Linked DNA regions of Homo sapiens: regions 2 and 3 are each linked to region 1. The links come from fine-mapping of genetic effects on gene expression. A gene starts in region 1. Each other region holds a variant in brackets. All regions are shown on one strand. Distances are between the middles of the regions. Region 1 holds the start of MROH6 (maestro heat like repeat family member 6). Region 2 overlaps TIGD5 (tigger transposable element derived 5). Region 3 holds the start of PYCR3 (pyrroline-5-carboxylate reductase 3).

The links.
Region 2: its variant is fine-mapped to the expression of MROH6 in whole blood (TOPMed, PIP above 0.99).
Region 3: its variant is fine-mapped to the expression of MROH6 in spleen (GTEx, PIP 0.99).

Annotation. Positions count from the first base shown.
Region 1 is chr8:143,569,881-143,574,880 of GRCh38, forward strand. It overlaps MROH6 (maestro heat like repeat family member 6), which reads right to left and starts at 2,892. Exons shown (of 14, transcript NM_001100878.2): 1 at 2,541-2,892; 2 at 2,153-2,305; 3 at 1,787-1,941; 4 at 997-1,114; 5 at 593-777; 6 at 363-500; 7 at 71-185. The coding sequence starts at 2,834. It overlaps NAPRT (nicotinate phosphoribosyltransferase), which reads right to left. Exons shown (of 13, transcript NM_145201.6): 13 at 4,905-5,000. The coding sequence ends at 4,958. RefSeq lists an enhancer at 1,401-2,250.
Region 2 is chr8:143,600,348-143,606,547 of GRCh38, forward strand. TIGD5 (tigger transposable element derived 5) reads left to right here. Exons shown (of 1, transcript NM_032862.5): 1 at 1-2,877. It overlaps PYCR3 (pyrroline-5-carboxylate reductase 3), which reads right to left. Exons shown (of 6, transcript NM_023078.6): 4 at 6,120-6,200; 5 at 5,715-5,807; 6 at 2,863-5,535. The coding sequence ends at 5,353. Among named protein-coding and RNA genes, the nearest start is that of TIGD5, 5.6 kb to the left of the region's middle. The variant G/A (reference allele first, on the strand shown) is at 2,755.
Region 3 is chr8:143,608,554-143,613,553 of GRCh38, forward strand. PYCR3 (pyrroline-5-carboxylate reductase 3) reads right to left here and starts at 1,022. Exons shown (of 6, transcript NM_023078.6): 1 at 905-1,022. The coding sequence starts at 995. GFUS (GDP-L-fucose synthase) reads right to left here. Exons shown (of 11, transcript NM_003313.4): 9 at 4,971-5,000; 10 at 4,643-4,742; 11 at 4,065-4,412. The coding sequence ends at 4,357. RefSeq lists an enhancer at 2,130-2,629. The variant C/A (reference allele first, on the strand shown) is at 2,172.

The DNA.
Region 1 (5,000 bases):
TGCAGGCCGCTGCGATTCAGGGATCAAGTCCAGGGTCACCCTTCACCACCCATCCGGGAAGCAGGCTCACCCCTGTGAAGAAGGCCATAGCCGTGAGACGCTGCGGGTCGTCCGCGCTGCGAAGCCGAGGGAGCAAGTCTGCGAAGAGGCCTCGCAGGTGGTGGTCGGCATGTGCCACCATAGCACTGGGGTGGGTGGAAATGGGAGCTCTCGCTCCGTTTGGCGGCCTTTCTCCTCGAGAAGACCCCATCCCAACACCACCCTCATGCCCCTGCCTTTTCCCTGTCCCCCTGCCCAGCACCTGGCCAGCAACGACTCTCTTCCTGGTGTGACACCCTGGGGCCCCTCCTCACCCTCCTCACCTGGCCAGCAGCAGGACGCCCTCCAGGTGGGTGTGGGCTCCCACCAGCCTCCTCCAGCCTCCTGCCTGCTCCATGCACGTGACCACCATGCGGCCTCCATCCCCGGTGAGCAGCGCCTTCAAGGCCTCCACAGCACAGCTGGTGGTGGGGACAGTGAGCAGGTGGGCAGTGGGAGCTGAGAGGGTGACAGCATGCTGGCCCGCCCCACGTAACCTGGTGTTGCCTCTCACCTGGCATGGCTATGTGGTGGCCCTCGGTGGGACAGAACCCAAATCTTGGGCATGTCGGGGGAGCACGGGCTGCGGGCCAGCTTGTGCAGCTGTGTGACCAGCGCAAGCAGCAGATGTGGGTAGAAGCCCCTCGTGGCTCCCACGCAGCCCGAAACAGCCAGCATCTCCCCAAGAGCACGTGTGGCCTGTGGAGCAAGTGGCCCACTCAGGCCTGGGGCACGCCTGGAGCTGCACTGGGCAGCAGAGGGACAGGCGTGCTGTCAACAGGATGGGGACAGCCTCAGACACGCATGGGACATTCCAGGAGCAGTTACCTAGGTGCAAACTCCCTATGCCCATCCTCCCCGCTCCTCGCCACCCCCCACCCCCGCCCCCACCCCCTGGTAATGGCTGGAGCCACCTACCGCCAGTGCCTGGGGCTCCGGCCCCGAAGCACCCTTCAGCGCCCACAGCAGTTGCACCAGCACCTGCCCATTTACACGCTGGTTACGGCTTAGGCTGCGCCAGAGCTCGGCTGCTACCCTGAGGGTTTGGAGGGGGCTGGTGTGAGACAAGAGATGGGTGGGTGTCCAGGGAATGTAGGGAGTCCCCAGCCAGGGTGGAGGCAGCCAGTAGGACTCCAGCAGGGGAGGGGCAGGAAACCCCTCCCATCTCCCCCCATCCCCAAATCTCAGAGAAACAAATGAAGGGTTAATTGTGCAGACCACAACATAGCCTATCTCAAGCTGAGCTGCAGGGTGGGGACCCACTGGGAGTCCCGTTGGGTCAGCGACAGTGAAACAAACCTGGCATTATTAAAAAGAAAAAAATTGCCACAGAGAATAAAACCAAAGATAACTTCTGGGGCCAATTAACCAAAGAGCCAGGGGTGTCCAGGCACGTTAGCCCCCCAGCCTCATTCACCCCACTCCGGAGCCAACCCCAGGACGGTCTCCAGGGGAGGCCACCCGAAGATAGAAGGTGGCTCCAAGAGAGGAGCCCAGCATCAGAAACTCTGTGGCAGGAGTGTGGGGGGAGTTTGCGGAGCTAAAAATGAGGGGAGCGGGAATGGATACGGGGCATGAGTCATCGCGGGGCTGGAATAAGGAGGCCCTGCCCCTTTTCAGCTCCCTCTTCTGGGGCCAGACTCCACCGCCAAGCGGGAAGAGGGAAGGAAGCCGCGTGGGGACCGCAGGGCCAGGACGGTTGGGTTACCGATCGGCGGGCAGAGAGCGGGGTAGCAGCGCACACACCACGTCCCGCGCATGCTCCAGGGCCAGTGCGCTCAGCACTCGCAGGGCCGCCCTCCAGGGCCTCCCCTCCGCTAGGCTGGGCACCTGCGCCAGCAGCCCACGCACCAGAGCATGCACCTGGTGGGGAAGGGGGCAGACTTCAGCAGTCAGGCCTCCTCCACCGTCCATTCCCCTCTGGCCTGCACCCCACCTCCACCCCCACCCTGATCCCGCCTGGCAGGAGCAGCCTGAAGATGGCAGGGTCAGGCTGCGCTCTCCAGGCCCCTCCCACCACCTTGGTGCCCGAACCGGCAGGATTCTGTAGGGCATGAAGTGGGTGAAGGCTGACCTGGTCCTCCAACCGCTCGCCCCGGGCCTCCAGGGCTGAGGACAGGGTGAGCACTGTCGCCTGGGTCCCTGCAAAGCCAGCCTCCTCCAGGCAGGCAGCCGTGTACAACGCGAGGTCGGCAAGAACTCCCTCCTCCCAGGAACTCTGGGGAACCTAGGGCAGGATGGGTGGGGCGTCTGAAGTGCCCAAACCTCTCCTAGCTCTCCTCCTGGTCCCTCGGCCTCCCACCTGGCTTCCTACAAAATCCCTTGCTCCTCTGTTGCTCACCAGCCTGTTTCACGCTGACCTCCCCCGGGGCCAGCACCGCCCCCCTGCCACCCCGCCTTCCACCTACCATCCACAGGACCCCCAGGCCGGTTCGCACAACATCCCTTCCCTCCCCCGTCACCTGGTGGGGCCCCTCAGGGGCTGGTTCCAGGGCACTGTTGAGGGAGCAGGGCTCGCTGCCAGCTTCAGGGACGGTGGCCCCACGTCCAGGCTCTGCCTCAGAGGGGGCGGTGAGTGCCTGGGTCTGTGGCTCAGCCTCAGGTTTGACCTCCCAGGACTTGGGCTGAGGGCCTGCGGAAGGGGGTCCCTGGGGCTGCCCCTGCCTGGCCCGGATTCCTTCAGTCAGTGCTGTCAGGGTTAGAGCCCCCACGGGAGCCTCCCGGGCCCGGCTCCGGCCCCACACACCCCCAGCCATGGCGGCCCTTGCCTGCAGCACCTGCCGCTGCTCCTCCTGCGAAGTTGTGCCCAGGACTGACCTAGAAGCCGCCCCGGGCGGGACCACGGACGGGCGTGGTGGCGTGCGCTAGCGTGAGCTTGCGGGGGCTGGGGAGCCACACGGACGTGCCTACAATGGGCCTTTGAGGGGCCCTCCTGCCTGGGCTGCTGGAGGGGAGTGGCCACCTGCAGCCTGAGTGCCTGTGGTGTGGCTCTACCCACCAGGGCCCTGAGAACAGGATCCCCAAGAGCTGGCAGATCCACGAAGAAAGGGGGAGAAGGGCCCCCACCCTGACTACCAGCCCCTGTTGACCAGGGAGCTCAGGGCAGTTGTGGACAGCTCTGAGGAGGTCCTCGCAGGGTCCAGGAGTCTGGGCCCCACCCTGAGTCGAGGCCTGATTCAGCCCCCAAGCAGCAGTCAGCTCCCCACTGGGCCTGGGGCTAGGGGCTGGCCCCGCCCCCTGCACGCTGGCTCCGCCCCCTGCACGCTGGCTCTGTCAGACACCTTGCAACAGGCATGACTGGGTGAGCTTGGGGCAGCCCGGAGGTGTGGAGGGGGCAGTGAAGACACCAGAGGAGCGGTGGCCCCTCCAGAGCTTGTGCAGGCCCCTCTGGGTCCTGGGTCCTTGGCCAAATCTCATGTTGAAACGTAATCCCCAGTGCTGGAGGTGGGGCCTGGTGGGAAGTGATTGGATCCTGGGGGCAACTTCCCCCTTTGGTGCTGTTCCCATGATAAGACTTCTCAAGATCTGGTTGTCTGGAAGTGCGTGGCACCGCCCCACCCCTTCCTCCGGCCATGTAAGACCTGCCCGCTTCCGCTTCCACCAAGATGGTAAGTTTCCTGAAGCCTCCCCAGCCATGCTTCCTGTACCTGCAGAACCACAGGCCAATTAAACCTCTCTTCCTTAGAAATTACCCAGTCTCAGGTATTTCTTTACAGCAGTGCAAGAACGGAAGAATACAGCCACTCTGGCTGGGCCCCTCGGAGTGCGCGGGTGCCCTGGGGGTGCCTGGGGTGTGGTGTGTTCTGTCCAATGTGTGTGAGTCTGTATCTCTCTCCTAGCTCGTACTCCCCGGGGCTGGCTGGACTGGGCCTCTGCTCCAAGTCCCCACCCTCCACCCTCAGCCAACCACACAGTGGTGCTGCCCACCCTGAAGCCCGGGGAGCCAGGTGAGCTGGTCTGGTGGAATGCCTGGGCAGACGGAAGTGCCCCAGGCGGTCAGCATTCCCCCCACACCCTTGCCTGTCTGTGCCACCTCAGGCTGCTTCGACAAGAGAGGCCCAGGCCCCCAGCCTCCACTTCCTGCCAAGCCTAGAACCTCTCCCCCAAGCAGTTCCTCTTGAAGCTCACGTTGCCCAAACTGGCGGAACCCTGAGATCAGGAACTTGCTGGTGCAGAGGCAGGGCCAGCCCAGCACAGCCACGTGCAGTGCCACTCTGGCCAGGTGTCTGGGGCTGAGTCATCTCCTGGAGCTTCAACTTCTTCCCCATTCTTCCTCTCCTTCCGTGGGCTGCTGGGTCAGGAGCTGTGTCCCTGACGCCAGATGCCAGGGTGGTGCTGGGTTGGCAGCAGCAGTGGCAGGAGACACCTGAGCACTCCCTTTTGACTTGGGGAGTTTGAGACGTCTTCACTGACCCTGAGCCTGGGGGGCAGTGCCTAGGCAGGCGTGGGAGCCCAGGGCCACGGCTGGACCCTCTTACCTGGCACTACCCCCAACCCTGTCCTGTCCCCAGCCTGCCTCTAGCAAGGAAAGGTCTGCAGCAACTCCCTCAACTCCAAGGCAGACACCAAAGCCCTCCCTGCCTGTGGCTTTGTAGTTCTAGTGTGGGATCTGACTCCCCACAGCCTACCCAAAGCCGGGGAACTCCTCACTGCCCTTCGGGCTTCAGCACAGGGCTGTCTCCCACGCCGGCAGGGCCTGTGCTTTCACTGGGATGCAAATCTTCCTGCTACCTCGAGCTCAGATTCCCGACTCCAGCCCAGCCGCAGCCCGGGAGGCGCAGCCCGTGGGCTGGGTGAACAAACGACACAAACAACACAGGACAAGCTGTGGGGAAAAGTGAGTGATTCGTGTTGTTTCCAGTCAGCCCCGCTCCGAGTCTCAGGGGGACTGCCCCGCACACAGACTGTTCACCAGGGCCTGC
Region 2 (6,200 bases), 31 kb after region 1:
GTGGGCTGGTCTCGGGCCGCCCTGCGGTTTCTCTGGAGGTCAGAGGCCCCAGGTACTGGAGCATCACTGTGGAGTGGGAGGGGTGGAGCCCTGTATTAGGTTCTGGGTGCAGCAGGGAGGTGTAGAGTTCCGTTTCCTTGGATTTTTAGTTTTCCCTAAGAAAACTGAACAGATCTCTTATTCCGTGGGATTGGCAGCTGCCTGGCTTTGGGCCCTGGTGACTTGGCCAACGGCAGGAGAGTTTCCCCTGCTTCCTCATCAGCCACAGACCATTCTGTCCAGTCCCAGGGCCTGGAGCCACCTGACTTACCTGGAAGCAGGCCCTGGCATTAGCCCCCAGGGCAATACGCAGTGCCACCCTCTGTGGGCTCTCCTCCCCACCCTCAGACTTTTCTGCCTCTCCTGGGACTGCCAAGGATGTGGCTGACAAGCTGCTCCTGGGAGGCCTACTTTGAAAGGAGGAAAGGGCCCCAGGGCCTGTCAAACCCTGGTTCTGTTCTGCTCTGGCCAGGTCTAGACCTACAGTCCTTCTGGTTGGACTGGGGCCAGGGATGCCCATGCCTCCTCAGGTAGGGTGGGAACTGCCTTTGCAGAGATGCTGCCCGAGCTGGTGTGAGGGGCAGGGAGCTGGCCTGCTTGCCTCCAGGTGTTGACCCCTCGTCCCCATCTGCCCCCAGTGTCCTCCTAGGAGAGGGAACCTTGAAAACCCAGAGTTGTGGAGTGCAGGGGTAGGCTGGAGGCCTGCACGGGGAAGGGAAGGGCTGTGCACCAGCTTGGCAGTGGGGCAGCTGGAGGGTGTCCCCCAAAAGTGACCTTTATACAGGTCCAGGAACAAACAGTTCCTTGGAACTGCCCGCAAGTGAAGAAATATATACATATATATGTATATATCTATATCTCAAAATCTGAGAGCTCAGGGAGGCCGTGGAAATTTGGGGAAGAAGAAACAGACTCCCTGAGCAGAGCTCAGGGCAGCAGCTCCAGGCATGCCTGCTGAGCCCATCAGGCCACCGCCACCTGCAGGAAGAGCCTCTGGCCTGAACTGCTGGGGATGGGCTGCAGAAAGCCTGAGACATTTGGGCCAGCACCTTCCCAGGGGCACAGGCCCCCAAGGCGGGGACACCACCTCTGCTCTGCCAGGCCTGCCTCCAGGGCTCTGAGGAGAAGCTGACTTCACGGCCGCGGTGCCAGTGAGGGCTGCATAGCCAGGCCTTGTCTGTAGTCTGGGCGGCCCGTGGCGCTGCCCTTCAGCCCAACTACTCATTGCCGCTGCGTCTTTGGCGAGGCTTTCATTTCCAACCTTTCTTCCCATCTCAGCCCTTTTGTTGGCCCGGGTCCCAGGAGGCTGGTGTCGGTGAGGGCAGGCCCGCTCCTCTCATCGGGGTGGCTGTGGCCTGTCCCCCAGTCCCTCAATGGCCACTTTCTATAAACAAGGCAGCACTAATTTTTGCTATAAGATAAAAGAGGCCAGGCACGTTGGCTCACACCTGTCATCCCAGCACTTTGGGAGGCTGAGGCGGGTGGATCACCTGAGATTGGGAGTTCGAGACCAGCCTGGCCAACATGGTGAAAACCCCGTCTCTACTAAAAATACAAAAATTAGCTGGGCGTGGTGGCAGGTGCCTGTAACCCTAGCTACTCAGGAGGCTGAGGCACGAGAAATGCTTGAAGCCAGAAGGCAGAGATTGCAGTGAGCCAAGATCACAACACCGCGCTCCAGTCTGCGCGACAGAGCGAGACTCTGTCTCAAAAAAAAAAAAAAAAAAGTGCAGGTGCACGCTGGTGGGGACATTAGGAGCCTGTCAAGAGTGGGTCTGCCTGCTGGCACTTACTAGACGGGAAATACCCCCTAAAGAGGGCTTAAAAAGCATCTTCTCCCTAGCACGGGGCATGCTGGCACAGGGTGCTGTGTGACAGAGGCTTGGCCGCTGGGCCCCGCTGCTGAGAAGGCTGCTCTGCCCATGCCTGGCCCTGTGGGCAGTGCCAGCCATGGATCCCTGAGACCCTGGGCTGGAACCTGGGGCCCCGTCCCAGCCCTACCTGCAGCTCACTAACCCTCTCTGGGTTCTGCTCAGTGTCTGAAGTGATGGAAAGACCCCAGGGTTGGTGGCTGTAGCGGCCCCCAGGGGTGGCAGAACCCTTTGGGAGGCCAAGTGTTCTTTCCCAAAGCTGCGCGGGTGCCATCGCCTGCCAGGCCCTGGCTGTGGTGACAGACGTGGGCTGGGGTGAGGCTGCATCTGCTTCCTCTAACAGCCGTGGCTGCCTGCGGGCTCTGGCCTCCGCTCTGGCAGATTCTGCACATTCCCTGCAGGCGCAGGGGTGGGTGGGGGTGCCTGTGGCCTCGGAGGTACAGCCAGCTGTCCTCAGCTCAGATGGCCCCCAAGAGCCCCCAGCTCCTGTTCACTGCTCTTCCAGTTAGTGACCCCCGTGTCAGCATCATTGTCAGAGTTCCTGGGCTTGTGGGGGCTGGAGAAGGGAAGGCGCTGAGGAGGGAAAGATGAGTGCAGGTTTTGTTGAAACCACCCGACCCGCGTTTTCAGGGGGACGAGGCCACTGCCTTGGCCCAAGGACCTGCAGGCTTGGGGGACCCCCTCGATGTCCACTGGGCTGCGGATGAAACATCACACTGTGGTAGGAAAGGAAGGGGAGCACCCCCAGACGGGGGGGTCCTGCAGAGACCCCAACCCCTTACCTACCTAGTTGAGACACCCATGGGGAGCAGCCCCAACAGCATGTCGGAGTCCCTAGGCTTGT[G/A]GGGTCATGCTCTGTTGAGGGCCCTTCCTCTAACTGGCGAGCTTGTTTACAGCTGAGCTCGCCTGGTCAGATGGGCCCAGTGGCTTTATCTAATAAAGGCTGGACATGTCCACTTCATGAGCATCCCTGTTTTGAAGTCTTATTTTTAAACTCTTGATCCAACGCTTGGATCAGGAATACCCCCTAGATTAACAGTTGGGGCATAGGGCATAAAAGTGGAACATTGATCAAAGATACCGTAATCATATCCATCGTTTTCTGTCTTGAAGAACAGTTTTCACCTGGAAGTAGAAGGCACAGGGGAGGCCTGGCTCACCACAACGCTCCCTGCCGTGCCGAGAACTGAGCCCGTGTCTTTGTCACAGGCCCTCACCAGCTGGGCCAGGAGTGGCTGGCTTGGGATCTCCACCTCCCGAGCTGAGCTCACCTAGTGCCCAGGGCTTGTCAGAGGTCCCAGGGGGAGACAGGTGTTGGTGCAAAGTCAATGATTTCTCCTTGCAGATGGGCTTGGTGTGAATGCAGGTGGCCGTCAGAAGGGCTGTCCACCTTCCTTCAGGGGGCCGCCTGCACCAGACCCCAGGCTCCCAGGCCTGCCCAGGCTTGGCATACAGTCCCCTGGGGTGACAGCGTGCAGGGGAAACTGCAATTCCATGCCCTACAAAGCCCCCAGGTGATGTAGAGGCCTGTAGCAGGCATGGGGAGACCTCTGCTGTCCACAGTGCCAGCACCCCCTTCGGCTGACACCTGTGCTTGACCAAGGTTCCAGGCCTCAACTTATGGGGCAGGCATTGGACCTTCTTTTTTTTTTTTTCCAAGACAGAGTCTTGCTGTCACCCAGGCTGGAGTGCAGTGGCATGATCTTGGCTCTCTGCAATCTCCGCCTCCTGGATTCAAGCAATTCTCCTGCCTCAGCCTCCCAAGTAGCTGGGATTACAGGCACGCACCACCACATCCAGCTAATTTTGTATTTTTAGTAGAGATGGGGTTTCTCCATGTTGGTCAGGTTGGTCTCAAACTCCTGACTTTGTGATCTGCCCGCCTCGGCCTCCCAAAGTGCTGGAATTACAGATGTGAGCCACTGGGCCCAGCCCAGAACTTGGTTTTATCCACCTCTGGTGAAACATGAGCTCACTTGGTGCTCTCTGGCCTCTTTATTCCCATCTCCTTAGGCTGACCCTGACAAGTGCCAGGGCCAGGCTTGGACCAAGCAGTCAACTGAGTCAGCCTGCCCTGGGAACCAGGCAGGGGAGGGAGCTTACGGACGGGCTAGGCTCAGGAGAGTAAGAGAGAGCAGATGAAGGGCAGAAGTCCGTGGCCGCAGAGGCAGCTGAGCATGAGGGATGGAGCGTGCTGCTGTCCTGCAGGTGCCGTTAGCCCTGTTTTGCACTGGTGGATTGATCTGCTCAGGCGCACAGGGAGATGGCACAGCAGGACCCGCCGCCCAGCCTCGCTGAGGGCATGCTCCCGCCTCACCTCCAGAGGCTGTTGGGCGGAAGCCGAGAGCTGCAGCAGTTGGGGCCAGCGTGGGACTGGAGGCCCAGGTGAATCTTGTGGGGCAGGGGACGGAGCTGAGGCTGTCCGGCCCGGGCCCTCCCCACCCAAAGGCCCTAGAACCCTAGCCTTCAATCCTGGGGGTTTGCTTCTCCCCTGAGTCCTGGCTTTCCTGACCTGCCGTCCGTTAGGGACAGGTGGAGGGGCCAAGTCTTGCCATCAGAGGCCAGTGTGGTGGTGCCAGAGCTACGGGGTATTCCAGGACCCCTGACCTAGGCACGGGGCAGGAGGGCCCAGAGCCACCTGGCCACTTGTCAGGAGCTTAGGATTGGGAGGAAAGAGGGAGCCTGTATCCAGACTAAAGCCAGGGGTCTGCATGTGTCCTGGCTGGCCAGGGCCACCCTCCCAGACCTCAAGCCACCCCACCTACCACTGCCCACCTGGTGCCACCCCAGCACTGCCGCAGACCTGGCCCAGCAGCTCCTGCTCCTTAGCAGGGGATGAGCACGCCCACCACAGCCACCCTCTTCTCCAGGCTGCAGGGCAGGCTCCAGCTCCCCATGGGGGCCCCATCAGGCCAGGGCCCCTGGCTTTACTGCAGGGGAGAGGGTCTCTTGTGCAGACCCCATATGGCTCGTGCCCCCTAGAGCTGAGATGAGGCAGCCGGCCTGGCTGTAGCTGCACGGAGCCACCTGGAAAGCCAAAGGCAAGCTCCAGCTCCAGACCAGGCATTGGGCCAGCCGTGCCTGTTACCGTAAGTTCTGTTCATGGCCTCAACCAACTGCCCAACCATGCGGGCAAATGACCAAGACGCCATCTCTTGGGCCCCTCAGAACCAATGTTGCAGCAAGGTGGGCTCACTGCAGCAAGGGGCAGAGCCACCACCACGGTGCCTTCTGCTCACTGGGGAGGGAGGAGTGTCCCCACTGGTCGGGGCTCCCCCGCCTGCTGGAACCTCCCAAGTCCTGCCCCCTGCATTTCCCTGTGCAAGGGGAGAAGGAGCAGTAGGAGACCCTCATGCAGGAGGGAGGGAGCCGCAGTCCTCAGGGGAAGGGACACAGGGAGAGGCAGGGGCACAGAGGCAGGAAAGGATGGCCAGAGCCCAGCCTACTTTCTGCTGAGCTCCTTGGCCCGGCAGGTGGCAGCCTCCACGGCGCTCATGGTGGCTGCTCGCAGCCCGCCCTGCTCCAGGGCGTGGAGTCCATAGATGGTGGTGCCACCCGGGGTGCACACGTCTGAGCGCAGCTGGGCTGGGTGTTGGCCCTCGTGCAGCAGCATCTTGGCCGTCCCCTGAGGAGAGCGTTAGGGCCTGGTGACGGGGGGAGGTGGTGCGGTCCCCACTGTGCGGCCTGCCCTCGTTGCATCCCCCAACCTTGGCCCCAGCTTCTCGAGCCTGCTGTTTCCCTGCGCACTGGAAGAGGTACAGGCCTGGGCCTTCCCGATGTTCCCCAGGGGCCACCCTCACTCACCAGCAGGGTCTGGGCAGCGATGCGGTGGGCCAGGCTGCTGGGCATGCCCATCTTGACGGCTCCTTCAGCCAGGGCCTCGGAGAATGCACACACCTGTAGCCGCGGCATGGTGGTTGGGGGGGATAGGTGTCAAAGCCTGGGGGCTCAGGACCTTCAGGAACAATGCCCAGAGCAGTAGCCGTGGGTGGCCAGAACCAAGGCCTGAGCCCAACGGTCTGCAAAGGGGCTGGCCTCAAAGATCCCCAAGGCAGTGAAGTCCCGGGGACAAGCAGAGCTCCCAGTGGGCCTGGGGAGCAACCACGCAGGCCTCAAGGTTGGACTCTGAGGGCAGAGGCTGTCAGAGGGACTGGGGTGGGCCCCCTCTTTGCCGAGGGTGGGGCCGGGGATGGACGAGGCAATACTCACGAAGGCCACGCCACTGCCACTGAGGCCAGTGTGGATGTCGACGTAGGCTTCAGGCACCTCCTCACACCGCCCACAGGCCTC
Region 3 (5,000 bases), 39 kb after region 1:
TGGAATGTCTAAGAAAAGGCTAAATGCCTACTTGGTAGAAATTATCTGCTTTTGTCGGGTACGGGGTGGAAAGATTGGGTTAGATTTTGGTAAGGTCGAACAGGAAGGCACAAGTGTACACCACAACCTGAACACAGCAATTAATCATGACAGTGGCAGCCAAACACACCAGTACTAAGCTCAACACTAGACATTTATGTCTCATTTAACCTGTACAGCTCTGGGAGGCATGCGGTACTGCCAGGTTTCACAGGGAAGACTCCTGAGACTCATAGTAAGCTATTTCCCGATTGATCTTGACTCTTCTGGACCCTGAAGTATGGCTGAAGGCAGAGAGTCAAAAGTCACCCAGCTCTCCCTATCCACAATCTGCAGAGAGGCTTCTAAATGCCTGGAGGAGTATATGGTCAGCATAAATATTCCGGGTATAAAGCAGTGTTTCTCAACAGGGGATGATTTTGCCTGTCTCCTCCCCCCACCCAGGGGACATTCGGCAGTGTCTGGAGGCATTTTTGGCTGTCACAACGTGGGGGTGCTGCTGGCACAGGATGGATAGTCTGGCCCAGGTGTCCCTAGAGCCAAGGTGTCTGGGGGAGAAGCCCTGCTGCTCCCCATGAGAGGGGCTGGCGCGCAAAGAGAAAATCAGAGGCTGGAAGAGGTGAGCCTGGCCAAGGCCACGCGGCCAGGAAGCCGGCCACGGAAGCGGCACCTAGCCACGTGTGACTCAAATCTTCCCGCAGCCACGTCAAAAAAGTAAGAGCAAACAGGCGTGGCCCCGGCTGCGCCCAGCGGAGCGGAGACCCGGTTGGCTGGGCCCGCGCCCCCGGCCCCACTCTCGCGGCAGGACACCTCCCACGGGGCTGCTCCCACTCCAGACCGCAGGCCTAGCCCCGCGCCGCCCCACCTGCTCTGATGAGGCCCTGCGCGATGGCCCCCGCCATGCGGCCCGCGCCCACGAAGCCCACGCGCCGCGGAGACGGCTCCGCAGCTGCCATCTTGTTGCCTCGGACGCCGCTGCGCTCACCGCCCATCCACAGGCCGCGCCCCGCCCACAGATCTAGGCCCCACCCCCGCCCTCCAATAGGACTCGCCTCCCCGTCCCCACCCTCGCCGATTGGTTACTGGGACGGCACACTCCGGCCGGCTTTTTGTCCGCACTCTACAAGTTCGCAAGGCGCGGGAACCCCGCCTCTCGCTGCTTATTGGCCCGAAAGGGCTATGCCGCCCCTCACTGCCCATTGGCTGAGAGAAACTGGGGGCGGGGCCGTAAGGGGCGGGGCCGGCGGGGTACTCGCGCTCGGAGAGGCCGGAGGAGCGGGGAGGGGTCCCGGTCGCGCGTGCGAGGAGCACATGTTGGTTTTCCGGAGGGGAGGGGTAGCGAAGCGGGTTGCGGGGCTGGTCCAGAGCGTGCGGTCACTGAGGCCCCGCCGACCACAGACGGTGGAGCTGCGGGGAAGCACTAGGGGCGGAGACCCAGGTCACGGAGAGCAGGCCAGGGCCAGGGGCCTGAGACCGACGGAGGGGACAGTCGGGGAGGGGGTACTCGTCACTTTTAATGACACAAGGAAAACAAGGCTTGAAGATCTGAGTGCGGTTTTTTCATCATCCAATCTAAAGCTGCATGTTACATATGTTATTTTCTTTTGAAGCCTTTGACATTTTCTTTTTTCTTTTTTTTGAGACGGAGTCTCGCTCTGTCGCCCAGGCTGGAGTGCAGTGGCGCCATCTGGGCTCGCTGCAAGCTCCGTCTCCCGGGTTCACGCCATTCTCCTGCCTCAGCCTCCCAAGTAGCTGGGACTATAGGCGACCGCCACCACGCCCGGCTTATTTTTTTGTATTTTTAGTAGAGATGGGGTTTCACCTTGTTAGCCAGGATGGTCTCAATCTCCTGACCTCGTGATCCACCTGCCTCGGCCTCCCAAAGTGCTGGGATTACAGGCGTGAGCCACCGTGCCGGCCCAAGCCTTTGACATTTTCTAAGCTCTTCAGTAATGAAATCCTCTCATTGATTCAACATTCACTGTGCAGCTGCAGCCTCTGGGCCCTGCTCTGGGCCTGGGCAAGATCACCCCACGGCAGCAGATGGGACAGGCTGGACCCCACCCTGCAGCCCTGCTTGGTGGCAGTGTAGACAGACTACAGTCAGCACACACGCAGGACAGCCAGTGTGT[C/A]AAGGCTCTGAAGCAAATGAGGTGGAAAGGGACAGAAAGCCACCAGGAGGCTGCTTCGGCCACTGCAGCCGAGAAACGTGGGTGGTGGACACTTTGCACCAGCACACAGCGTCAGCAGCTGTATCTCCTGCCACCTCGGATCCTCCCAGCCCCTTCCCACAGACTCCCTGGATTTTCTCCCAGGCCCCCTGGGCCAGTGATGGCTCAGGACCAAGGCTGTGGGGAGGTGAGAGGGGCCAGAGGCATCCAGTGCCATGCCATCATACATAAGGACAAAGCTCATCATAAACAAGTGGACTGAGGCGAGGTGAAGGAGGATTGCTGGCTGAGTGCCCAGGGCCACAGTGGGTAAAAGGAGGCCCAGGGGCCCAGCCCCGTTCAGCTTCTCCGTCCCATGCCGGGCTGGGCTTCTGAGCATCAGCTGGGAGCCCTCAGCTGACGTGGACACCCAGCCAGCCAAGGCTTGTGTCCAGGGCACCTCTCTGCTCTTGGCTGGGCTTCTTCCCACTGTTCACCTGGTGGATCCAAGCAGCCACATAGGCGCCACCCTCTCCAGGAGGCCTTTCCTGAACCCCCACATGGGCAGAGCCTTTATCCACAAAGGGCTGGGGCCAGGGGATACACTGTGAACGAGGCCAACCCGTCTCCTGGAGCTCGAGGTCCTGGGGTGTCAGCGGGAGGGTTAGGGGTTGAGGCGGGGCTCCCAGAGGTTTCCAGACAAACAATCCCAGCAGGGCAGGGTGGATGCTCCGAGAGGCGCTGTGAAGGTGCCATCAGGGAAGGTGTTTTGGAGGCTGGGCCACCTCAGCTGAGGCCTAAAAGGTAGGGAGGCCTTGACCCAAGAGGGGGCCAGTCTCAGGGGAGGCCTGGAGGACACCTCGGCTTGCTGGACACAAAGGGACAGTGAGAGATGAGGTGAGCGGTTGGCTGGGTGCAGGACACACCGGTCTGGACTCAGTGCCGGGACAGGGAGGACACATCACCGCTGCCGGAATGAACGAAGAAGTGAAGCAGCAGGTCCTACCTGCAGCCAAAAGGCATCATGTGCGTGAAGACGGCACAGGGCGCCCAGGAGAGGGACCCTGAGGACGTGGGCCCAGAGTTGGGCCAGGAGCCAGGGAGGGCATCTGGGTCCTGGATGCAGTGGACCAGAGGGTTCTGGCATAGGGGCTCCCTCTGTGAGAGGCACTGAGAAAGGGGGCGACGGGCAAGCCGGGGCCTGGAGCCCAGTGCTCCTGGTCCATACCCCAGCGCCACCCTGCCTGGCTGAGGCACTGGCCCGGGAACCATTCTGGACTTTGCTGTCTCCCCTCTGAGAATGGACGGGGGCGGCGAGCAATGACACCCCACCTCTGGTGGCTGGAGCTGACCTGTCCAGCAGGCACCTGTCCCTCTCCATGGGATAAGGCCAGGTGGGGGACCCACGCCCAAGCCTGAGAGCCACAGAGAGGAGGGGCCAGGCCAGGGGAAGCCCGAGCCACCCAATCATCAGCCTCCCCTCATATCCATCCATGGGCTCAGCTCGGCTGGCTCACTAGACGTTTCTGGCCCACTAGACCAGCTTCCCCAGAGCCCTCAGGCTGAGGCAGGGAGGTCCGGGTGAGCTCAAGTTACTCAGGCCTGCAGGTGGCCACATGTGGAGGGGCTGGGACTGGCCCTGCCCTGCACATCCTTGTCCAGCTGACAGTCCACACCAGTCTCACTGCTGCCTGCCTGCTGCCTGCCCACGTGTGCCTTCCCATCTCCAGCCTCTGCGGCCTTTCCACCCCAGGGAGTCACCAGCTCTTGGGGGCTGAACAGTAAGCCAGGGGGATAGTGGGTCCTGGGACTGGCCAGGCTAGGGGGCAGTCCCTGGGTGTGGGGGACGGCTCAGCACAGAGCTGCCAAGGCCAGGCCTGTGAAAATGCACTTTATTGGCTCCCAGGGAGTGGGATGCAGGATCAGAGTGGACACGCGCAGGGGGCTGGTGTGGGGAGCAAAGCGCCGGGCCTGCCCGGGACCCTGGTTTCCCTGAGGACCAACGTGAATGGGGGCCCCACTGGAAAGATGCTTGGGGCTGCAGAGCGGATGGAATGCAGGCCCAGGTTGCTGGGTGGTGCCCTCAGCTCCTGGCAGGGTTGACGGGTGGTGGCCGCTGGGCTCTGCCAGCCGATGGTCCGCTGGCACCTGATCCTGTCTTCCAGCTTCACTTCCGGGCCTGCTCGTAGTTGTCAGTGAACCAAGCACAGGTCTCCTTCACCGCTGCAGAGGCAGGCAGGTGAGGGCCATGGACAGGGAGGGTCGGGGCCGCATGGGAGGAAGTGGGGGGAGGAGGCCCAGGGACAGGGAAGTCACCCCTCAGAGCTTTGGTGTCCCACCTCCAGGGCAGTACAGGCTCTGAGGGGGCACCTCACCTCTGCCCTGGTAGCGAGCATGAGGGAGGGGCTGGGGCAGGCCTCCACCAAGTGGAGGGCTGTGGGGTCAGGGCTCACCCTGCTTGAAGGGTGTGAACCGGAAGTCGGGCAGGTAGGTCCTCAGCTTGCTGTTACTGGCTGTCTTCTTAAACTGCCCATCCGACTTGGTTGTATCAAACTGGAGGCTTTGTCAAGGCCACAGCGAGAAGAGCACCTCCACCCCAGCCCCCGCAGCTTGCCCTTGAACCTCTGCCATTCCCAGGGGAGCCACAGCAGAGCTCCTCCGCCTGCCAGGGTGAGCATCCTCCCTCCGCAGTGTCCCACCCACGCTGGCCCTACACCGGGTGGCCACTGAGCCCGCCCAAGGGGCCCCCGCCCAACCCCCAGCACTGGAGCCAGAGGATACGGTGACTTCCCCATGGAAGTCCATGGCCTC